Regions from separate parts of the Homo sapiens genome. Here all the other regions are linked to region 2. The links come from fine-mapping of genetic effects on gene expression. A gene starts in region 2. Each other region holds a variant in brackets. All regions are shown on one strand. Distances are from middle to middle.

Evidence for each region. PIP is the estimated chance that this variant, and not a neighbour inherited with it, causes the effect.
Region 1: its variant is fine-mapped to the expression of IRF2 in monocytes after LPS (Quach 2016, PIP 0.95). The same link has a PIP of 0.9 or more in monocytes, monocytes after R848 and monocytes after interferon gamma.
Region 3: its variant is fine-mapped to the expression of IRF2 in NK cells (Gilchrist 2021, PIP 0.95).

The regions. Positions count from the first base shown.
Region 1 is chr4:184,326,487-184,334,664 of GRCh38, forward strand. No RefSeq gene overlaps it. Among named protein-coding and RNA genes, the nearest start is that of MYL12BP2, 16 kb to the left of the region's middle. RefSeq lists an enhancer at 1,519-2,078. The variant A/G (reference allele first, on the strand shown) is at 3,732.
Region 2 is chr4:184,470,680-184,478,857 of GRCh38, forward strand. IRF2 (interferon regulatory factor 2) reads right to left here and starts at 3,871. Exons shown (of 9, transcript NM_002199.4): 1 at 3,700-3,871. IRF2-DT (IRF2 divergent transcript) reads left to right here and starts at 4,123. Exons shown (of 1, transcript NR_186573.1): 1 at 4,123-6,625. RefSeq lists silencers at 2,130-2,199, 2,260-2,949, 3,030-3,079, 3,890-4,009 and enhancers at 4,040-4,229, 4,580-4,909.
Region 3 is chr4:184,384,813-184,392,990 of GRCh38, forward strand. IRF2 (interferon regulatory factor 2) reads right to left here. Exons shown (of 9, transcript NM_002199.4): 8 at 5,891-5,937; 9 at 2,917-4,254. The coding sequence ends at 3,946. Among named protein-coding and RNA genes, the nearest start is that of LINC02362, 6.6 kb to the left of the region's middle. RefSeq lists enhancers at 1-42, 1,561-2,319, 4,325-5,058, 5,059-5,792. The variant CGGGAT/C (reference allele first, on the strand shown) is at 3,394.

The sequences.
Region 1 (8,178 bases), 140 kb before region 2:
TACTAAAACAAAAAAGTAGGGCTTCAGATTCATGCATCTTGGGTATAATGGGAAATAGAATGTGCCACCCCCAAATATGCCACTTTGGCGTAAGAATTGTTTTGAGCTGAAGGCAATTCGCTGTCTGCCATCCCCTATTCTGTCTAAAAACAGGACATAAATTTCCATTTGTAAGGGTGTCTCCCTTTCCCATACCAGGAAGAGAAATACTCCAGAGACAACTTTTAGCACCTGAGGCGACTCTTATCTGCCTAACAAACGTTATTAAACAACACTTGTTTATTATACATTTTCTCCCTTCACCTTCCCATAACTTACCTCCCATCTCAGAAGCCCAAAATCCCCTTTCCTTTGTCCAGCCTAAGATGGTTTATATAAGCTCCAAATTCTAAATGCCTCTTCGAATCACATTTCGTTGTGAATTCCTGTGCCAGCATACATAATTGTATCTGTTATTCTCTCTTGGTAGTCTGTCTTGTGTGAATTTAATTCCTGGGGCCCCCAACCACTGAACACAGGAGAGCAGAGAACAAATGTTTTTCCTCCCCTACAAGTATAATTAAAAGTATAGGAGATCTTGCAATTAAGAATTGGCGTCTGAACCAATATTCCCAATCTCTAATCTCAAACCTATTTTTTTCCTCCTGAACTGATGGTATGTTGACCTAGAGATGATAAAGGCAAAGTTATTTAGGAAGGTAACGCTGGCAGCCAGTTGGGTGGAATAGCTGGAAAAGTTCCTTTAAGAGTGAAAGGATAGGCCAGGTGCAGTGGCTCACTCCTGTAATCCCAGCACTTTGGAAGGCCAAGGCAGGCAGATCACCTAAGGTCAGGAGTTTGAGACCAGCCTGGCCAAAGTGGCAAAACCCCGTCTCTACTAAAAATACAAAAATTAGCTAGGTGTGGTAGCACATGCATGTAGTCCCAGTACTCAGGAGGCTGAGGCAGGAGAATTGCTCAAACCCAGGAGGCAGAGGTTGCAGTAAGCCGAGACCATACCACTCCACTCCAGGCTGGGCCACAGAGCAAGACTCTGCCTCAAAAAAAATTAAAATAAAAAAAGAATGAAAGTATCCATAATTACAGGTAGATTATCATCAGTTTTCTATTTTTGCTAGATGTTGAAATTAGGTGTATTGAATAAAATACATGGGACTTAAAGCCTGAGTAGCTTCTTTCAAATCCCAGCTCTGCTGCTTAGCAGCTGCCACTGGAGAAGTGATTATCCTCTGAGCTTCATTTTGTTCATCTGTAAAACCCGGCGACCAGCACATAGGAAGAACACAGCAAATGCTGGTGTCATTGAACATGCAGATAAATGAATGATTAACAGTCAATGAATTGAAAACTGTTTACCAAACCCAGGCTTGGAAGATTCAAAACAGAAACAGTGGTGTTGACAGAGCATTATATTTTAATGGATGACAGTAAATAGAAAAAGGGGGTTGATTCTGGAAAAGCGGAAAGAGCTTCAGAAATACTGGGAAGCTCCTGGCTTTTGGCGCTCCGTCTTGTTGAAATATTTAAGCCTCAACATACTTTCTCAACCTCATTGTTAGTGAAAGAAGGAAGTTCTATTAAAGAGAGCAAGAGAAAGACCATGCCTCAATAGCCAGAGTAAATCTAGTTTCCATCACACTCAGGGTGACCGGTTGGTCAAGGCAAAGCAGCATGGATGCTCCTGATGTCAGGATTTTTCTGTCCTGACCTGAGATGCTTCTGGGTGAACCCATCAGACAAGATGCTTTCTCAGACTCAAGTTCAACCACGTGGACCTCAGAGAACGTATAGCATAGTGTTTGTTGTTCCAGCTAGTACCCAGACAGGAGTCACCTGTGTGCATGTCTTTGCATGCATCGCCATGGGGGTTTTCCCAGCTCTGGTTCTCTAGTTCACTCGAATGAACACAGGAGGGATCACAAAGGCCTGAAGAATGTGTGTTCTTTTCTTCTGTTTTCCTGCACAGGTGCTAGTGTATTAAAAGCAAGAGCAAAGGGGCAGCCTGATGGCTGACGAGCTGATGAACAAGAGCAGCAGGTGTGTCCCCGCTGTTCCTAGAGAACAGTATGGAGAGTGGATCTCTCCATCACCCCCTCAATTCCCAATTACATCCCAGTTGTCCCATCCTCAGTCCTGAGGGGCTTTCTTAGTTGAGTCATAAGGGTAACCTCCAGGATGTCTCCAGAGCTAGGAGGAAGTTGCATAATATCAGTGTTTTTTAAGTACTTTTAGAAAGCAGTGACATTCATTTGACAAAAAAATTTAATGTACAGTGATTTCTTTCACTTACTGCTGTTGACTTTTCATAAAAAGATAATCTAAGGTCCCTTCCCTCTAGGATGTATTTACAACCTCCTTGGGGAGTCAAACATAAAAATTAAATAAGAGCTATGGAAGGATTACACCGATATAATTAATTTTAAAATTAGATTGAGAGCAAAAACATTTATTGAGCATGTACTATGCTCCAGGTACCTGCATAGGCACTTTTATTTATTCCTCTGATTGAACTGTCCTGTAAGGCGTGGGATATTATCTGCATTTTACAAAAGACAGCTCTAGGCTCAGAATGGTTAAGTAATGACAGGGTTCAGGACATGCTACCCCAAACTGTGGTACCTTGACACACTGAATATCTTAAGCTGAAGGAATCTGAGAGATGGCACGTGCAAGAAGCTCCCTCTCACCTTTCCCCTCACCTTGCCTGCTGAATCAGGTCGTAAAACCTAAGAAGGATTTTCTGACCTTCTCCTGAAGCAGGTCATCGTAAGACCCTCCTGTGAGCGGTGCCCTCCCTAGACCCGGAGAAAGGGAACATCCTTATTTCTGAAGACAAAGAAGAAGCTGAACAAACAGGCCTTGCTCAGTTTCCCCCAGTTTATTCCCATCAGACCACACTCTTTCCCCAATCACGTTTCCGCACACCTGGCCACTTCTCGTCAAACCTGTTGTACAAAAGAAGCCAGGCTGAACTGTTTCTCTGGGTCATTTCCTTATGAAGGTTCCCGTGTCAAGTAAAACTTAGATTAACTAAATGTGTATACTTTTCTCTTCTTAATCTGTCTTTTCTTATATGGGCCTCAGCCCTGAACCTGAGATGGGCAAGGAAGATACATTTCCTCCCGTACCGTGACAAAATAAGTGTCTTCTCGTTCAGAGTTTCCGATTCCAAATCCAGGAGTCTTTCCACTACATCAAACCTAATGGTAAATATTCAAGCATGTACAAAAGAAAGATCCCTGTAGTTGAGTGCATCCAGAGAAGCGCCTTGGCTCTCCCAGTAGTACTGCTCTGACCTGAGGAAGAATAAGGCCTTTATAAGCACAACTTGGCTGCATTCCACTGGCATAAATCCCAATCAGACAGTCAACCCCCTTCCGCATCCCCATCCTCTGGCCTTTTGAGAAAAGGGATCTGCCCTCCTAAGGGAATGTTCATTTTGCCACTAACAGGGAGCTCTCTGAAAAACGCTGTTTGCTGTCCAGTCACACCTCTGTGGAATCTTTTAACACATGGCGATTCTGTGGCAGGATACCTGTGTTGGTTTTGTTTTCACAGAGTGGTCACAAAGCTGAGTTCAAGGTGAGAAGTGAAAACAATTAAATGAATGGTAGCTTTTTCCACATGACTTTTCACTGCAGTGACCCAGCCCGGTCAGCCCCCGCGCCCGCTCGGTGGCGTGCACTTCCCATGACACACACACTCGTGGTATCCATGAGTGCGTGTCAGGA[A/G]AGCAGAAGTGTCACATGGACAAGCGAGTGTCAACAAGAGATGTGCCTCCTCTACACATCATGTGGTTAATGTCCAAACTCACTCATCCCACAGTCACGTTTGACTCTCAGTTGATCACTCTTTGTTCATGTTGAGATTCAACAGGAAATATTGTTTTTACAGGGTCTGGAATTTTAATGAGTCTAAGGATTCCTGATGGTTGTATTGACTTTATTTGTGGGGTTCTCAAAAGGAATCTCACAGTGTAGTCAACAGCAAGGAGTAAGCATTTTCTTACTTACAAAACCAAAGTTATATGTGTGGTACAAAGATGAGAGACTGGGGCCAGGCGAGGTGGCTCACGCCCATAATCCCAACACTTTGGGAGGCTGAGGCAGGCAGATCACCTGAAGTCAGGAGTTTGAGGCCAGCTTGACCAACATGGTGAAACCTCATCTCTACAAAAAATGCAAAAATTAGCTGGGTGTGGTGGTGCACACCTGTAATCCCTGCTACTCAGGAGGCTGAGGCAGGAGAATCACTTGAACCCAGGAGGTGGAGGCTGCAGTGAGCCAAGATCACACCACTGCACTCTAGCCTGGGTGACAAAGCAAAACTCTGTCTCAAAAAAAAAAAAAAAAAAAAGTGAGACTGGGAGCAGAAAGCAAGCAGTACTCACGCCACACTGCTGGGCAGTGGTGCTTAAAGAAAGCGAAAGAACAAACAAATGAAATACCAGCCTCAATGCAAAAATAAGCTGGAATGGAGGAGGTTTTCCATGCTTTTTGAAAGAGGCTGGGTAGAAATTGTAGTCTTGGGGGTTTTGTTGACAGCAAGAATTTCAGCTTTGCCTTAAGTGTTACTCAGAAGGTGAAATGGATTCAGCCAAACGTTACCATATAAACACAAACAGGCACATTTTGAAAACAGTTCCTGGAGTTCCAGGGAGCTCCCCTTTAATTCATCCCTAGCTCAATGCCGTATAGTTAGTGTTCAACGTCCTTCTAAGAAAAGAACTGAGGCGGTTTATTATTAGTGGTGAAGAACCAATACACAGAAATACAAAGGGTCATAGAAAGACAGTAAGCAACATTTCTGCTACAACAAGAGTCCGTAACCATGCTTTACTCCAGCCTCGGGGCTTCTGAAACCTCCCTAAGCTAAGAAACACAAACACATGTATGTGGGCCCATAATAGATGTAGGTGAGGGCTATAGGTCTCCTCAGCTTCATACCAGGTGGTATGTTACAATGAAAGCAAGTCTCAGACGGAATTCGGCCATAAAATAAACATTTAGAAGCCAGCAGGCTCAAAAACGTGGTACAACCAGTTCTGTAAACTCAACCAAGTACTGGTGCTTTGTTCTGCTGGCACACTGACAGGTGCCTTACATAACAGATTCACTTAAGGCAGATGTGACAGTACTCGAACAGCATGATTTAGCTTCATGTCTAGTCAGGGTCAGGTGCAGGAACCTTTCTATGAGCTGTGGATACAAGTCCTGATTCAAATCCCAAACCAGAGACAGCATTTGGAAGGGCATACATTATCCACTAGGCTTTCTAGGTCATAATACCCTGTTTATGCAAGGAGATGCAATCTGATACAGTGCTTCCAGTCAGCCCATAATATTTTGAACAACTCTTACTTCACCAATGAAAATGACTCCTAAAATCCATTATGCCAGATAGCAAAGCTGTTGGTGTTCATTGAGGATAGAGGAAGTTCTTATAGCTGACTCTCTAGAGCAGGAGCTGCTTCTTCTTTTTTTTTTTTTTTTTTTGAGACCGAGTCCAGCTCTGTCGCCCAGGCTGGAGTGCAGTGATATGATCTCGGCTCACTGCAACCTCCACCTCCCAGGTTCAAGCGATTCTCCTGCCTCAGTCTCCCGAGTAGCTGGGAATACAGGCGTGTGCCACCACACCAAGCTAATTCTTTGTATTTTTAGTAGAGATGGGTTTTCACCATGTTAGCCAGGATGGTCTCGATCTCCTGACCTCCTGATCTGCCTGCCTCGGCCTCCCAAAGGAGGAGCCTCTTAATAGTCTTTCAAATTCCAACAGACCACCCCTGGAGTGTGTATATTCATTCCTGAATAGGGCTCTTCAATATTAACTCGCTGCTCCTGGTTGTCAATTAAAAACCCAGAGATAAATACCACTACCTATGCCAACATTTTTAACCATGAATTGGAACAGTGTAATATTTTTGCTGGGATCTTTGATTGTCTCTTGCCAGAGCCCAGACTGGGGATCCAGGCATACACCTGGGCTCAAGACTTAGGAAAGCCCTCTCTCTTTCCTGGCCTTACAGTCTGGAGTCTTGGTCAGAATCTGCCCATCTTCAAACAGTTATGGCTTTCTCTTCTTACCTGTGCCTTCCATCAACCTTGTGAAGTAGGTGACGGTTACCAGGGTTAGAGTTCAGTTATTTCAAGAGCTTATCAGAGGAATTAAGCAGCAATTTTTTTATTTTTTTGCTTCAAGCTATCAGTTCCAAGGTCAACATGATATCTTGATACTCTTAAATGCTCTGATATTTTTTGATTTGCTGTGAAAGGCACACAATATTAACTCTATTAATGCCAGACAAAATACCGTCATAAATACTACATAGGAAGGGCCCTTGACAAAGACAGTCTCAGTGACCAAACTTTAGAAGGCCCCTCTCAGCCCTCTTTTTAACAGGACTCATCCCTGGACCCAGGCTTCAGCCTGCCTAGTCCAGTTTTAGCAGGGATCCTGCTAAGCCAATTTAGTGAGAGTCCCTCAACCTTGACCTCTGACCACACTGGTCTGCCTTCAGCAAGAATCCTGTTAAAGTCAGTTTAGCAAGAATTCCCCTCCCCTTGATATTTTTCTTGGTAATTACTTCTCTTAATAATTTTCTACCCATCAACCTCCCCAGCCCCCATCTGATACTGACATGGCCTAAAAAACTTGAATATCATACTGCTGGACTGAGTGAGGGTTTTCGAAACTCTAGTTGAGTTCATGAAACTGCTAACCCATGATCAAGCAAAACAAGAATTAATTACATAGGACTGAATCAACTAAAGAAGGAGTATAATTTTTATGGCTTTTTGTTTGGAACATTGCTTGTTCTTAATGTTCTATTTTCTGGACATAAGGAACCCCTTTTCTTTTTCTCTTAAGTTAGCTATAATATGTAACAATTTAGTAGATACATTTCTATAACAAAAATGGAACATTTATCTTTTTTCCTAATCCTTCCATAATTCAGAAACTATTACTGAGTATTTTTATGTTCATGGTTGTATTAGTCTGTTCACACTTTGCCATAAAGAAATACCTGAGACTGGGTAATTTATAAAGAAAAGAGGTTTAATTGGCTCACGGCTCTGCAGGCTGCACAGGAAGCGTGGCAGCTTCTGCTTCTCCGGAGACCTCAGGAAACTTCCGGTCATGTGGAAGGCAAAAGGAGAGTGAGGCGCATCACATACTCAGAGCAGAAGGAAGAAAGAGAGAGTGGGAAGGTGCTACACACTTTCTTTTTTTTTTTTTGAGACGGAGTTTCACTCTTGTTACCCAGGCTGGAATGCAGTGGCACGATCTCGGCTCACGGCAACCTCGGCCTCCCGGGTTCAAGCGATTCTCCGGCCTCAGCCTCCCGAGTAACTGGGACTACAGGCGCCCGCCACCACACCCAGCTAACTTTGTATTTTTAGTGGAGATGGGGTTTCTCCATGTTGGTCAGGCTAGTCTCGAACTCCCGACCTCAGGTGATCTGCCCACCTTGGCCTCCCAAAATGCTGGGATTACAGGTGTGAGCCACCATGTCCAGCTGCTACACACTTTTAAACAACCATATCTCACGATAACTCACTGACCAGCACAAGAGCAGCACCAAGGGGACAGTGCTAAAACATTCATGAGAAAATGTCCCCATGATCCAATCACCTCCCCCTAGGCCTCACCTCTAACACTGGGAGATTACAATTGAACATCAGATTTGAGTGGGGACACAGATCCAAACCGTATCAATGGTGATATACTATTTTATATGGGTTCGATAAGAATCTGTCCTTTTTGTAACAGAACATAATTTTAAAAATTGATTAGATAATCAAGGCTTTGACCAAAATGTTTTATTTGAGAATAAGACATGGGGGTCCATTCCAAGATGGCCGAATAGGAACAGCTCCGGTCTGCAGCTCCCAGCCTGATCGACGCAGAAGACAGGTGATTTCTGCATTTCCAACTGAGAATAAGACATAAAATCACATATGAACAGACAGTTTTGAGGAACTAAGGTTAACTTTATGGAGCCAATGCATATGAAGCCCTCCCGGAAAGTCTGCCTGGTACCTGGATTATGGAGTTCCCAGCCTTACAGGTGAGTCAGGAAGGTGACTTTCTGGCAGGCCAAAGAAACTCAGGATGTTTTTAGGACCTCAAGAAGAGAAGAACCCATCTGAATCTCTAGGCATTGCAGATAAGGCCTGG
Region 2 (8,178 bases):
ACTCTGCCTCAAAAAAAAAAAAAAAGAAAAGAAAAAAAAGGTGGTAAAAGCAAAATACTACAATCAGCCCAGTGCACACCTGCAATGACAGATAATGAAGAAGTTGACACGAGAGTGAAGAAGATTCAGACTAAAGCACAGAGAGGCTTGGGAAGATTTTCTTATCTGACATAAAGAGGGAAAATACATTGGTCCAATCACTGTTATTTCCATATCATTTGGTCTCCATGGATACCACCTAACTTTCCTTCTGACAGGAAAAAATTCACTGACAATATCGGATTCCACTGTGAAATTTTTTTGATACTTTATATAAAAGTTATTCCATGTTTAATCTTTTATCATTATTTATATATGCTCAGAAGTAAAATCCCTCCTTGCTGGAAATTCTATGAGAAAGATAGTGTCTAATCCAGTCATGATTATCTGGCCTTTTTACACTAAGAATAATCTGATATAATTTTGAAAGTTAATGCCTTACACATTTGTAGACTGCCATAATTTATGCAATGTTCTTTCATATACAGTATCTCAATTGTTCATGAAAGCAACACTTACGAGATATAGTTAAAAATTATTATTATCCTCCTTACAGCTAACCCCAAAAGGTAATAACTATATTTTTTGTTGTTAATGGTCAGCTCACTCACCAGAACACAACCTAGTGTAAAGATGCTGTCTTTCTCGCTGTCAGTTGAGTATACAGAGGCTAGCACTGTGTCTGGCTTATAATAGATGTTCTAAGGATATTTATTGAGTGTGTACATAAATTCTCTTGTCTGCGTTAAGCCCTTTTTGGTATAAGGCAGATAAGGGAACTATAACCCAGATACTCCATTTAGATAGAGTACAGTGGTTTTTCACTATCAAAAGGATATTATGTGAAAATGCTCTAAAAACAACAGTTTTGTACGAGATGATGTTAAGAATAAAAATATAACATCGTTGGTAACATGAGAAAATTGATGCACATCAAATGTGGAGCATCCAAAGTGTCTATTTTTCCAGTAAGTTTAAACATCTTTTGCTCTGGTGCACTATTTGCCTAATAAAGTGTTTCAGAAAGTGGGATAAAAGTGGGACCATTGTTCATAAGGCTGTCAGAACTTCATGGCACGCATGTGTTTGCCATAATTTGCTTCCAGTTTGACTACAGATCCTTACTTTTGATTATGCTGACATTTTTACAGGTAAGTAAATCTGAAATAACTGGAACTTTCTCTAACAAAAAAATGACAACTCACTGAGAATGAAATATGTAAATGTTTAATTTTAACAAGCAGTTACAAATCGTAACAGACAAGAACTCTTGGATCTAAGAGACCAAAATGTAATTTCTTACATAACAGACAAAGTTACAAGTTATAATCGTTCACTAATTACAGTGAAATTCCGGACTTTGACACATCAATCAATAGATGTTCCAACGTTCCCCCTAGAGATCCCAGTTCAAGTCTTAAATATTTCATCTGCTGAAGTTTCCTCAGAAAAGGCTCCTTTTCCCAGGATTTTTTAGGTTTCTACTTTTGCCCCTTCTCCCACTAAAAGAAGAATAAAGGAAAGTTGGGGAAATCAGAGAATCCTGAATCTGCGTGCGTGGTGAAGTTAAACAGAGTCACCCTCTGGGCCTGGTAGGGATAACTGCATCTGCCTAGCATCAAGACTATCCACCGCCTGGTCTAACCCCAGACCCCGTTGTGCACCTGCCCTTAAGCACCAAAAACTGAACTGCTCAAAGAGAACCTGCAGTCGATATGAAAACTAGTAAATGACTGCAGGCTTGACAGCAGTCTCGGTGATGCCTGAAAATCCACAACAGGAAATCTAACTATCCTCCATACCTCCTGGCCATTCATCAAAAGCAGACCGAGTCACAGCCATAAGGAGGCCGGTGGCTGAAGACGAATGCCAGCACCACTTTTCCTCATTTAGAACAACTGAGTTTTTTCCTTCCATAACCAAGGACAAGGAGCAACCGGAGGGAGGAGGTTGAAGAGGGAGGGGGCGGGCAATATGTCCCCAAGTTTCAGACAGTAGCGGGTCAGAAACGAGCGAAAGCCACCTCGCTCTTCTGAGCTACCTCGGCCGCCAGTCCCCGGGATCACATCCGCAGCCGAGCGCCAAGGGTCCGGCCTACACAGACTGACCCGGGCGTTTCACCTGGTGCCCGACCACGGCTCTGGCGCCCTGCCCAGGCTGCCCGCCTCCTTCCCCTCCCCCGCTTCTTAGGGAACAAGGAGGAGAGGGTGGCAAACGCACCCAGACCGGGGGCCAAGGGGAGACGCCGGCGCGTGCTGGGAGGGGCATGAGTTACACCCGCGACCCTTGGAACTTGGAACGGCTTCCCCAGCCCCGGCGGACGCCGGCCCCCAGGCCGTGCCACTGGGAGCAGGCGGGCGCCGCGATTGGCCGCGGCCGGCTTCACTCGGTGGGCGAGCCCTACCGGCGAGGCGGAAAGGAAGTGGCGGCCGCCGCGGCTTTGCACCAACCATGTTCGGCCAGCGGGCGAATGTCACCCGGCGCCCGGAGCCGGGTCGGAGGGCACGGGGCGGGCACTCGCGTCCCCACCCCGCCGCGGCCCGCGCCCCGGGACCCCGAGGGGACGCCGGCCCCCACTGCGCCGCTCGGTCCCCGGAGGCTCCCCGCCCCCACCTCGCCCGCTCCGTAGCCGAGGCGGGTCAGGCCCAGCGCGCGAGGCCGGCCGGGGGCGCCTGCGGGGACCCGGGGGCGCACGGCGCTAGGCCGCGGCCCGGGCGGCTGACCCCTCGGCACGGTGCCTTCCTGGGACGCGCCGCCCGAGCCCCTGGCGCGCTGGGACAAGTGCAATGACAAAGCCCCAGGGCCCGACCGGGCGCTGGCCGGCGGGAAGGAGGACGCGGCGTCCCTTCTGAGCGGCGGCGGCGGCGGCCCAGCCCCCAGGAAGCAGGGCGCGTCGGCCAGGCCCGGCGCCCGGCCCGGCTCCGAGCCCGCCCTCCCGCCCCGGCCGCTGGCACCCGACGCCCGCGACCCGACCCCGAGCCCGGCAGGCAGGCGAGCCCCTGGACCGCCGCGGGGCGCCCCAGCAAGTTTCCTCTGGCCGTGGCTGGAGGCGCTCCTCCCGGCCGGGGAGCGGTGCCTGCTTATTTACGCTGGAGGCAGCCTGGAGAGGCGCCGCCGCGGGCACCGAGAAGGACCCGCTCCCCTCCTTCGGATCCGGTGGCGGCGGTGGCTGCACACACACACACGCGCGCACACACAAACACGCACATACACACAATTTTGTTTTAAATGAGGCCCGACTCCAGCTGACCTGCACCCCCACACACAACACCTGGGGCGCAGAAGCACACACAGCAGGTCTGTGTCCATGGAGCCACCTCTCCGCATCTGCAAATCCAAAAGTGAAATTAAACCTCCACCAACCTCCTCCTCCTCCTCCCTCTCTACCTCCTCCTCCTCCTCCTCCTCGCAGCCTCAGCAGCCCCAGTAGCAGCAGCAACAGCAGCAGAACCTGCTTCCCCTAAAATCAGATGATCCATAATTGCGCCGACTGTTCCTCCAAAAATCAGTATTAATATTTATGAACCCCGGCATTTTCCGTCTGCAAAACATCGTGTCAAGGCATCAGGACACGCATACACACACGGCCCCCCACAGTCCCCAGAAACATGCCCTCGAGAGAAACACACACAGTCACAACTATTATTTGAAAAATGTTACCTCTCAGTGTGCTTTTTTCACGCTACCAATACAATTCCGCAAGGTATAAGTGTTGCTAGGGTATGTGAAATGGAAATGAAAGCCCGTCAGTTGAATAATCGCAGGAGCAAAACTAAAAGTTACTCCCCGGCTTGCCTGAGAACAGTCCAGATCGAAAGCAAAACAAGGAGAGGAAACTGCGAAGAGCCGCGGCTGGAAATCCCCCCACCCCCCGCCCTCCTCCGGCCGCGCTCCCTCCCTCGCCTCCCCTCTCCGCCCTCCTCCCTCCGCCCTTCCTCCCCAGTGTTTGTTTCAAGCTTGTGCAACCGGGAGGTGGAGGCGGAGGGAGGGCGCGAGCGGCCCGGCCGGGAGGTGCGGAAGTTCGCCGCAGCAGCTCATTGGCGGGCAGCGCCGCTTTCATCATTTCTCGGAAAAGTCAATTTCATTTTCGCTTCCCCAGGTCGCGGCGGCGGGAGCAACAAGCAGCGGCTCGTGAGTCCGCGGCTCGCACCCAGGGGCGCCCGCACGTGCGGCTAGAACGTCCGAGTCGGGGTCCGGGGCGGGGGGCGCAGGCCCGCGGCGGTAGGGGAGGAGAGCGGGCACCCGAGTCTCCATCCTCAGGGTGGCCTGAAGGTTCCAGGAGGGCGTCCGGCGAAGGCACGGGGCTGCGACCATCCAGTTAGCAGGGCTGGTGTGACTGTTGAGAGTAAATGAAAATTCGTTTTGTGACACCGACCACCTCCAAGGAATGAAAGGAGCAGTCAGCCGAAACGACAGCATTACTTGCGTCCTTACCTAATTGGAACCTTATCCGTGGCTGAGGGTGCCACCATTGGAGGGGCCGCCGCCCCCTCTGACACCACCTGGCGCTCCGCTCCATTTAGGAGCTAGAACGAAAAGGAGGCCCATCCCCCAGTAAGTCACAGCCCACGCCAAGATGAGTTCTGGAGCCTGTGCGACCGAAGTTTCTTCACCGCAGGGCGAGGTGGACAAGGGTGTGAGTTACTTTGACTTCAAGACGTCTCAGTGGCGGCTGGTTCTGGAGAGAGGCTTTATGCTGGAGCACTTCCAGCAAAGTTCGGCTGGGGCCTCCTTAACTCACTGGCTGGTCACCCTTGGCCTCGGTTTTCAACCAAAGCCTAAGGCCTCAGTTTTCAACGCTGTAAATGGAAATAAATGAGAGAAGAAAGTACAGCCCGTGTGACAAGTGCAGCAAGCAATGCAACTTCCTTGGGACCTACCCTTTGTGGTCCCTTGCTTTAAAAGTATAGATTCACATTTAGTTAGACCTGTTTCTTCCTCGCATGCAATTTCACCAGTCTTTTCCCAGACTTCTGTACTCAACAGAGGAAGTTCCTTCCTGGGAGACCATAGCTGTTTGTATGTAAAGAGTTGCGAAAAAACAAAAGCAAAACAAAAAACTCCAACACCTCTCTGTCACAGAAGTATTGAATTATATAGACTGGAAAAATGGAAGTATCCAAGAAAACGCGTGTGGTAAGAAAATGGCTAAGGTGCAGGATTCTGTTTTGTGGCTCTGGTCTCAGAAATAGACCTCACATACACATTATTCCTTATCCCCTCTATTATAATACTCACTTTTTTTTTTTTTTAAGAGACAGGGTAGGCCGGGTGCAGTGGCTCATGCCTGTAATCCCAGCATTTTGGGAGGCCAAGGCAGGAGGATCACCTGAGGTCGGGAGTTTGTGACCAGCCTGACCAACATGGAGAAACTCCATCTCTACTAAAAATACAAAATTAGCCAGGTTTGGTGGCGCATGCCTCTAATCCCAGCTACTTGGGAGGCTGAGGCAGGAGAATTGCTTGAACCCAGGAGGCGCAGGTTGTGGTGAGCCGAGATTGTGCCATTGCACTCCAGCCTGGGCAACAAGAGCGAAACTCTGTCTCAAAAAAAAAAAAAAAAAAAAAAGAGAGGGTCTTGCTCTGTCACTCAGGTTGTGCTATCATAGCTTACTGTAACCTTGAACTCCTGGCCTTAAGCGATCCTCCTGCTTCAACCTCCCAAGTAGCTGGGACTACAGGCCTGTGACAGTGCCTGGCCCAGGCACTGACTTTCTTATGTCATATAGCAATGACCACTAAGGGAAAGTCTATACAAACTATAGAATAGTTGTCATTCTTTACCCAACCCGGGACACAAGTTAAAAACCTAGTATTCATTTTTTTTTTCCTGTACCAAAACAATCATCTTCCTTTATTTTTCCTGGAGCGGGAAGAGGAGAGTGGAGAAGAAGGGAAGAATGCAAAGTGTCACTTTGAACTTCTCGTTCACCACACACGTGGGAGTCCACTCATGTCAGCAGCCTCCGTGCACAGGCCCCAGGTGAAAGAAAGAATGAGGTCTAGTTGGACCAGCTAACACTGCCTGCCTTGTGTTTACGAAAGGCAGCTGCCTCTGTGGTGTGATTTCAGGGGAGCCAGACAGGGCCGGGGCCACGAACCTGCATCCTGCATCCTAAGCACCTATTGCCATGCGTGAGGCTAACTGGAAACTCACTTGCTGGGTGCAGATAGCTTCCAAACTATTGTGATGCTCATGCTTGACTTCCCAAGGAACGTGTTTCAGGAAAGGCCATTGCCCTCATTATGGTCTTTGATAAGCAGGAAGAAGTTTGTTGTTCCTTTTTTTTCTTAATGCCCTACTTCGTGCAACATACATCCAATCAGTCATATCCTATTGACGCTACCCCTAAATATCTCTGGGCCTGGCCCGTGCTCAGGGCACTGCCTTCATTCAGTTACTGCACTTGCCTGCTGCCTGTGCTCCTGGTCTCCTGCTTGGACTCCCCCAGGCCAGCAGCCACACTACTGCCAAAATCCAGTCGAAAATTAACTTCAGGTAAAGCACAATTCCAAACCTAACACTGCCCCCCTCAAAAGCCTCTCTGTAGCCTTCAGAATAAAGACCATATTATTTGACAAGACACATAAAGTCCATTGTAATCTGGCACCAAACGACCTTTCCAGCCTCATCTCCTGCCATTGTGTCCCACAAGCCCTACATCCCTCCCTTGCCAAACCAGCCTCCGCTCCTTTTTGTCAAACAACAGAGCTGTCCTCTTGTTCATTGTTTTATCTTTAGCATGGTGCCCAGCACACAGGCACTGAAATACTTGTGAATTAATAATTACTTGCTCTTTTCATCAGGCTCTCATAAAATATTTTAGACTTGATCAGAGCCTTGTTTTATATTTTAATAGCTTTTTAATATAAATGTAATTAATGTTTCTTGTACAGAATTTGGAAGATGCAAGAATGGTGAGAGAAGAACATAAGCCACCTGACATCTCACTAGTCAGGAATAGACCTGTGGATATTTTTATGTATTTCCTTCTAGTGATCTTTCTAAGGGACCGTTTCCAATCCGCATCTCCTCTGTCTGTGTGTAGGATTTAAGAATGCTGACTGTGCAGGCTGCTCTCCACGATGCCCATGTGACAGCCTGCTGTCCTATTCTAGTTCTTGGCCGGTTCCTCGTCTGCTGCCAGCCCCCTAAATTATGGTGTTTCCAGGCATTCTATCCTCAACCCTCTTATTTTCTCATTCTACATGCTTTATCTTTGGGTGTTCTCCTCCACGCCCAGGGCTTCAGATATCACTATTTGCTGATGACTCCAAAATCTGTAACTTCTGAGCTCTGACCACATTAACTCCTACACATGTCTCAGGTGCAACAAATTATACATGTCCCAAGTCAGAGAGAACATCTTTTCCACAGCCTTGCACTGTTCACTTCATTGATTAGCTGGGAAACTGGGAGGACTCACAGACTGCCCCCTTTCCTGAGTCCTGGGGCCTCCCTGAAGCATGGGTGTTGCTTGCAATTTTCCAGGCCCCTAAACTCATAAAACATAGACAGAATGAATTTCTGTTCTTAGGCCCTTGATGACATGTCACTGCAAACCAAAAATGTACAAATGAACCAAAACAGCCACATGGTACTGATATACACAGTCAAGAAGTATCTTAGCCCTTTGATGAGATGCATATAGTAATAAATCTCTGTGGAAACTCCAGCCTTTTTGGAAGCCTGGGTAAGAAAGTAGGCTCAGTGGCTCACGCCTGTAATCCCAGCACTTTGGGAGGCCGAAGCGGGTGGATCATGAGGTCAGGAGATCGAGAACATCCTGGCTAACACGGTGAAAACCCGTCTCTACTAAAAATACAAAAATTAGCCGGGCGTGGTGGTGGGCGCCTGTAGTCCCAGCTACTCGGGAAGCTGAGGCAGGAGAACGACATGAACCCGGGAGGTGGAGCTTGCAGTGAGCCGAGATCACACCACTGCACTCCAGCCTGGGCGACAGAGCCAGAGCGAGACTCCATCTCAAAAAAAAAAAAAAAAAAAAAGAGTAACCTTTGTCATACTGAGGAAATCTGACCAAACACTTCAGTCTAACGTGAAAAAAGTTGAAGGGTCTTTTATAGTGAAACTAGAGTCATCTCCTGGATGAAGCATGTTTGTATTTCACCTGTGGGATG
Region 3 (8,178 bases), 86 kb before region 2:
GGGATGACAGCCTAGTAGTACCCAACCTTGATTCACATGCTGGGGTGCAAATGAGTGAGAAGCAGCCTCAAGAAGCTGATGGTGTCACCCAACTGCCCTTGGGAGGGGTCCACTGCAGCCTGGGGACAGAGGGAGGTCAGAGTCACGTCCCACCTGCTCTGATAACTCTGGCCCCAGGCACGTCATTGTACTGTGGGATGGAGTTTCAGGGTGAGGTAGGCGGCTGAACGGCACCATGTAAAAACCAGTTTGTGCCTCCAAACCAAACTGGCACTCAGACATTAGCTGTTTGACCCCTGAATGCCAATGAACTCATCTTGGCTACCTGTGTGTAAACCTTTCCCTAGCTTTTGTCTTTTATCAGGAGAAATCTGGCAGAATAGTGGGGGTTCTTTTTTTTTTAACCTTTTATCTGGGCTTATTTGTCCAAAACTACAATAGCAGGGGGCCTTTAAAGCCTAATGAACGCAGGTTACAGAGTGGCCTCAAGCAGAAGGAACGTCTCATGTTCCATCTCTCTGAATTAGGGGCAGGAGGCCAGCTGGGGCTTACCATCTTTCCATTCACATGCAAAGCACTTCCAAAAGCACAAGTTTGAAAACTCAGACTCCTGAAATCAAATCACTCATCTCCTTCACTTCTAAAATCTCTGTCTCAGTAGTGGTTACATGATAGTACGGTACACTTGGGATTTGGGTGGGGAAAGGGTATTGTTTTAGGGTTTTGATGTCCAAAGAATTTGTATTCCATAGCCATGTGTATTTCTTTTTTACAAATCCTTTGAAATAGACTAAATACCACCTTTGGCAGTGGTTCATCAAAACACGGACAAAACAGTACGGTTGAGGGTGGATTTATTTAGATGTGCAAATGGCATTCCAGAAGCCCCTTTCATCGAGGTGTGTGGATGTGCTGGGTGCTTGCAACCTCAAGGCTGGGCAGAAATACATGTCCCTGAATTCACAGTTCACAGCTGTACAGTGAGCCCATTATCAAGGGAGTGACCCAGGTACTGGCTGCAGAGAATGGAAACTATTGTTCCAAAGGCAGTTACACTGAACTTGAACTTGCTATTAAACGCATACGTGCACACACACACCCAAGCCCATCATCAAAGCCTATCAGCTCACACAAATACCAACCAGAAGCATGCGTCCCTGGCACTTCCTCTAAGTGACGACAAGGTCTGAGGCTTGGGTCCAGGAGCTGCCCCAATGCCTTTGTTTTCCTTCCCCATGTCAACCCCAGGCATCCTGAGACTAGCTTGTTTTCCTGCGTTGCTGGCAAGTATCACTTAGAAACAATACAGGCTTTCTCAGAAGGATTTTAAACATGATTCTGTTTTTCATGGCCTTATTGGCAATGGAGTATCATCTCTGGAACTTAAATGGTGCATTTCCAAGTCCTGAATTTTCTTCCACTTGATGGGCCTTGGGAAGTCTAGTTACGCTACAGAAGCAAGGGGAGGGCAGCAGGAATGGCATTCGGGACCGAGATGCAGGAAGAAGCCCTGAGTCTGTGTTGGGAAGAAGGAAGGGGGAGGAGACCTGAGCTACCTTAAACCCTTTGATAACCAGGCCACGTGACTCAGGGCAACCTTCCGTTGCTGTTTTGTTAATTTATTTAAAATAGGATGACTCAGTAAAACATTTTAGATGTAAGTCTCAAAGAACTGAACTTCTCCATTCAGGACCTGGGGGAAGAGCAGGTCTTAACTGAAAAGTCGGGTGCCAAGGAGCCAGGGAGCATCTGTTTCTTCCTGATAACTCCCCTTCCACTGAGAAACTGAGACAGTCAACGAAAGTGCTCCTTCCAGAAGCAGCCCCGCCTCTGTGTGTGGCATTTCAACTACAACGCATCCGCCAGGAAAATGCTCCAGTTGATTTCCATTCAGGGCTGGATAACTTTATGACCGCTAATTATATCTGCAGCCACACATGGAGATAGGCATAAAAATAGCCTTTTGTCCTTTCATTAAAGGAACCTCTTCAAATATTAACTTAGCAATCTCCTCCACAACCCCCCAGAGGTAGTAGGCGGGTAGCAAAGTTTTCATATTCTGATTTTACAGAGTAAGATACTGGGGATGCAGGGGAGGCTGGTGCTGTGGCTTTCTCCAGGCCAAGACTATACCTTCAAACACCAAGTGGCTGATAAAGACTGGTGTTCTTGAAGTCACCCCTTTTATTCCACAAGACAGACCCCAAGTTTTGAGGGCACGGTCTATGTGTAAGGCCTCGGGTCCTAGAAAGACGAGTGACGGACATGGTGTTAGAGCCCAATACATATTTCCTGTTGTGGAAAATGTCTTATCCATGCACCCCTCTAAGTGACATAAACACAAGACGTTTGTCGTACGTGTAAGCCTAAGGATGAAAACAGGAAAGACACAGAGTGGGGTGAACCTTGCTCACAGCAGAGAAGGAAACCAGTGGCGTGGCTAAAATACTCCCCCTCCACAGGGAATGCTCCCAACACAGAGGAAGACAGACATTTGAGATAACGGATATGCTTACAAGAAAAAAGACCCCCTTCATAGCACAGAGAATTGGGCTCAACTTGTGCCCAACTTGTGCCCTTGCCTCTTAGTGCCACTATGAGCCAAGTAAAGGCATCTTCACATTCAGTCTTCATTTCCTCCACATGAAATGGAGATGAATGCCTATTCTACAGCACAAGTGTGATGAATGAAGACGGGAAGTCATGCAAAACGCTCAGCACGGGCCCCTGCTCAGGCGAGCACTCAAGAGAAGAAGTCAACTGAAGCCTCACAGTAAGAACCTCCACGGTTTCTTGTGGTCAACAAGGGAAAACATTTTGGTCCCCAAAAAGAAACAATCCTTTGTCAGTCCTATTCCGTGATTATGCTCTTTTAAAGCAGACACAGACAAAGCCAGGAGTGATGCCCCTTAAAAATTTAACTATATATCATATTCATTTATTATCAATCCACAGGAAAATCTGATTGCTACATGAGCTCATAAAAGCTTTTTTCACCTTTACAAAATTAAAAAAAAAAATGTGCCACAAGGATGTAATAACAACTGCTGATAAACAAGAAAAGGAATCTTAAAATTATAAATTTGCTGTAGAAAAGATAAAAAACAATTATATTTTATTTAGAATTTTACCTTGAATAAAATATTCCCCTGTATAAAAAATAAAAAAGCTTGCTCTGGTTAGAATTAGAGTATTTTTGTCTTCAAATCTGGGAATTTGCATAATATTTCCATGATACTTTTTCCTTTGTACCGCGTGGCATTCAAGCATAGCAGATTAGAAGGATTTTTTTTAAAGCAGTCTGAAAATGGGACATCTGTAGAGAAATTCATTTCCTTCTTCTCCTCCGGATGTGGAATGGAAGCTTTGAGGGAAGGAAAAGTAGGAAAAGAG[CGGGAT/C]GGGATGGGATGGGATGGGATGGGATGGGATGGGATAGGAAGAGAGGCTGGGGAATGGGCAGAGAAGGGGGTGCTGAGTGTGCTGTGAGATAGAGCAAGATCACAAGAAGGCCTATCTGTAAGTGCTTTAAGATAAGGTGCAGAAGCAGACTGCAATGTCGCTAGTGCTGCCTATGTACATATTCACAAGAATAAAAAATTCCAGCTAGTTCACATTATCTCGTCCGTTCTGAGGCATCCACTCCACCTTGCTGGCCTTGACCGCAGGCAATGCAGCACCTCCACTGCCCTTGTTGGTCCTTGAACTTGAGTGAGTAGCCCTGGGAGATCCAGCAGGCTCTAGAAACACACGTCTACCAATGGGCTGGAGTCCTGAGTTAAAGAGAAGCTCCAGTACTGGAGTTGGACACAGCAATCAATGTTCTATTGTCAAGGCTTTTTCCCTTAGATTTGTCTAAAATAGGTGTCAGAGAGAAAAAAATAAAATACAAACAAACAACAAAACAAAGCCAAGAAGCCCCAACAACCACCGCGGAGAGTCAGAGGCTTAACAGCTCTTGACGCGGGCCTGGGTGATATCCGATGTTTTCTTGATGACGCTGGCCCGGGTCTCCCGGTCTGGCCGACTGCTGCTGGATGCTGGGGTCATGGAGGAAGAAAGGGGGAGGTCTTGAAAAGGGGGCCAGGAGCTGTTGTAAGGCACCGGATTGCTCTCCTCTTTGATGGTGACCTGGAGGTCCGGTTTGTTGGAAGTGACGAAGGACGCCATGCCGGGCAGCAGGTAGGAGCCTCGAGTCCCCATGTTGCTGAGGTACTGTTTGCCTTCAATATTCCTCTTCCGCCAGTGTGGCCGCCCCTTTCAAGAAAGTAATTAAGATATGTATTTCCTTCTCCTTCTATTGGATGGCTTTTTAAAAATGCATCACTGGCCAGGTGTGGTGGCTCATGCCTGTAATCCCAGCACTTTGGGAGGCTGAGGCTGGAGGATCACTTAACCTCAGGAGTTTGAGACCAGCCTGGGCAATGTAGCGAGTCCTCATCTCTACAAAACGTAAGAATTAGCTAGGCATGGTGGTGCACACCTTTAGCCCCAGCAACTCGGGAGGCTGAGGCGGGAGGATCACTGGAGCGCAGTAAGTCAAGGCCTCAGTCAGCTATGATTGCGCCACTGCACTCCAGCCAGGGCAACAGAATGAGACCTTGTCTCAAAACAACAACCCACAAAAAAAATTTTAAAATGAAAAATGTGTCGTTCCCATGTGTTGGTGCTTTAGCTGAGTTTCTTAAGAACTGCAGAATGAACAAAGGCTTAGCACCTCTACATCCCTCAACTGAAATCTATTGCACCCAGCTATTCATATGCCAAGTAATGGTTTTTCTTCCCTTTTCTTTTTTTTTAAAAAATCAATTCCCATTTGCTACCTCCCAGAAATACTTTCCAGACTACTCTGTGAAGGCAGGAAAAGAAGGCAGCAGCTTGGTTTCTGGTTCCCTTGTGCTCTGCGGCTCGGCCCGATTATTCGATAGGTTTCAGGTCACCATGGCCAGTGTGGCACAGCGACTCGGTCCCTCAATGCTGGCCCAGTCAACCTGAGCCAACCTGCATTTTCAGAGAAAAGGCAGCGAGGAACTTAGTGACAGGCAATGAATGCCCCTTGATTGCTTTCAAATGGGGGCGGCTTAGAGCTCCACGGTGTACAGCAAGCAGCGGCCTCAGGGCTGGCTTCATTCAGAGAAGTGGCTAGAGCTGCAACCTTGAAGAAATCAGGCCAGGGTGTATGGGAGCGTGTACATCTGTCTTTTCAGAATCCCTGCACTTTTTCTCAAAGTGTTTAGTACATGGGAAACCACTAATTCAAACAACCATGAGCTTCCCTCTCTCTTGCTCCCTCCCTCTCTCTCTCTCATTCACTCAAGCGCAGACCCCCAGCAGGTGGCCAGCAGGAATGCTTTCCATCTCCATTCCAGCCACTTTCTGCCATTGTGCACGCCCCATCTATGGGAGGGAGAGGGGACGGGACCCACTCGGAATCGAGATGGGGCACACAACCAGCTCTGGGCACGGGTCACAGCGGGAGGGAACCCACGCACACGTGGAAGAGGCTTTTGCTTAGCATTTTGTGACGTGTACTGGTCACTGCTTTTGGCTGGGAAGGCTGCTCTATTTTTGCCGGTGAAGTAGGATGTTTAAGTGGTAAGAGCATCGGCATTTCCCAGCCTCCACTTCAATTCCCTTTTCCTGCTATCACAGCTTCTCTACCTGATGGTAACATTTAACTCCCTTTCCTCCTTTCAGTTCCAACGCCGAATTTTATAACCCCAAACCCAAAAGTATGGTAAATTCTGGTGATGCATATTTCACCACACAAGAAAATCCCAAAGTGAAGCTTGTGATCTAAAGGAAAGGTGCATAACCAGCAGCAAGGAAAGCCCGGAGCTGGTCGGGAGGCTTTTCCTTGGCAGCATCGTGGGCAGGCTGGGCAGTGGCTTACCTCGGCACTCTCTTCATCGCTGGGCACACTATCAGTCGTTTCGCTTTCTGTTCACAGAGAGAAAAACACAGGGCCATCATTCCTGTCCCTCAAGCTGTCCCCAGGCTCAGGCAGTGTTTATAAAAAGGAGACTGAGTAACTAAACGCATCACCTCCCTCCCTTTGTAAAGCGAAACATTCTACATGGGAGAAGCTAGAGTGAATTTCAACTCTGTAATCTTCGGAGAAACCAGGCTTGAGAGCTGTGAGGAGGCTCCCTTGGCCAGGGCCGGGCTGTGTATACACTGGGCACTACCTCCCAGGAAGGGGCGCTGGTCCCTGGGGCCCTCCTCACTGCAGCTCTGTCCACAATGCCCACATGGGTCCTGTCTTTCAATCCATGCCAACCAATTCATTTAATTCCCAGTGCAGAGTTGACCGTTTCCAAAAGGTCTTCCTACATTATCCCCATCCCACTCAGATCCTTCCTTTACCTCTCACCCCTTTAGGACTTAGATCCTGGATTTCTAGAGTTGCATCTGCCATGTGGGTTACTGTAGGTGGACAGATCTGGGGTGCTCCCCATGATCCTCACCTCCTTGGATTCACTTTCTTTGGGATTGCCTCCCTTGAGTGTGGATGGAATGTGTCTGCTTCTAACAAATAAGATACAGCAAAGGGGATGAAATGGATGTGATCCTGTGTCCATGATCATGTTACATAACTCAGAAACCTGCTGGGAGAGGAAACACTCTGCCTTGCTGGCCTTGATAAAGCAAGCAACCATGTTGGGAAGGCTCCTATGGCAAAGAACTAAGGACTGCTTCCAGCCAACAGCCAGCAAGAGACTGAGGCCCTTAGTCCAACAACCTGCAAGAAACTTAATTTTGCCAAAACCACATGAGCTTGGAAATGGACCCTTCCCCAGTTGAGCCTCAGATGAGACAGCAGCTGTAGCCAACACCTCCATGGCAGGTTTGCAAGACTCTGCAGCAGAGGACCCAGCTAAGCCACGCCTGGATTCGTGACTCAAAGAAACTGTAAGATCCAAATGTGTGTCGCTTCAAGCCACTAAGTTTGTGGCTGCATGGCTATGGCAGCCAATCAGTTGCCATCCCCATTTGGCCTGCCAGCTGTGAGACACTGGGCAAGTTTCTCACCTTTACTGAGCTGCAGTTTTCTCCTCTGTAAAATGAGGGCACTGCCACCATCTAAGAGGATTACATGGAGAGTGAGTGAGAGGGTACATGGGAAAGGCCTAGCAAGGGCCTGGCACACAGCACACACTCCATACATCAGCACTGCTTAACACTGGGTTTGCACAACAGGCTGGATTAATGGAATCGAAGTCTAGTGATTACACATGACCTATGCTTATAAAAAGCTTTTTAAACGTAAAAACATTTTGATTTTGTAAAATAAAATATCAATGGTGTGCGATTATTCCAGTGTCCATAACCATTGAGAAATGCAATCACAGAGGGCAGAGCCTGTGCAATATTTAGGCATTTAGAGATCACTTAGCCTGAGCCATTCGTTTTACAGACAAGGCCTAAAGAGTAACTGCAATAGCTTCTCTTCCTGATGGCAACCTTTAACTGCCTTTCCTCCTATTTAGTTCCAATGCTGAATTTAATAACCCCATACCCAAAAGTATGGTAAATTTTAGGTGACGTATATTTCACAACACAAGAAAATCCAAAAGTGAAGCTCGTGTTCTAAAAGAAGCAAACATTTAGGGAGCCCTATGGGTCAGTGCCATGTCAGAGGCTTTGCATGCAGGTCTCACAGGGGTCCCACGTCAGCAAGCAGCTGCTCTCATCCCCCGTTACGCAGAAGAGCTCTTATGCTCCAGTGCCTTCCAGCTTTCCACCCGGTCCCTGCTGAGGGGCTGGCCTCTGTCTCACATCTTCCTGGTGGCAGAGCTGGGATGAGATGGCTCCAGCCCAGACAGAGCCCTTTCTTCCACTGAGAGCATTAGCCCCAGACCAGGCTCTCTATCAATTAAAGGCAAAAGAACAAATGGACAAACTGTGCCACAGGTGCATTCCTTAAACAAGGAAAGTAAGAATGTGGACTCCACTGGTCCCAGCCTGGAGTCTCTGGGCCTGTTTCTCAGCCACTGTTCTCCAGTAACTTCACACAAACCTGAGTGATCGCGGTGGGCTGGCCATGAGCATGCAGAAGACAGATCTCTCCACTCCTCGGACTGGGCATGTTTCCCCAAAACACCCCGTGCTGGGAGCCACAGAGACCCAGAGAAGCCCTCAGCCTCAGCTGACGACGATCCCAGCTATGAAGATGAGCTG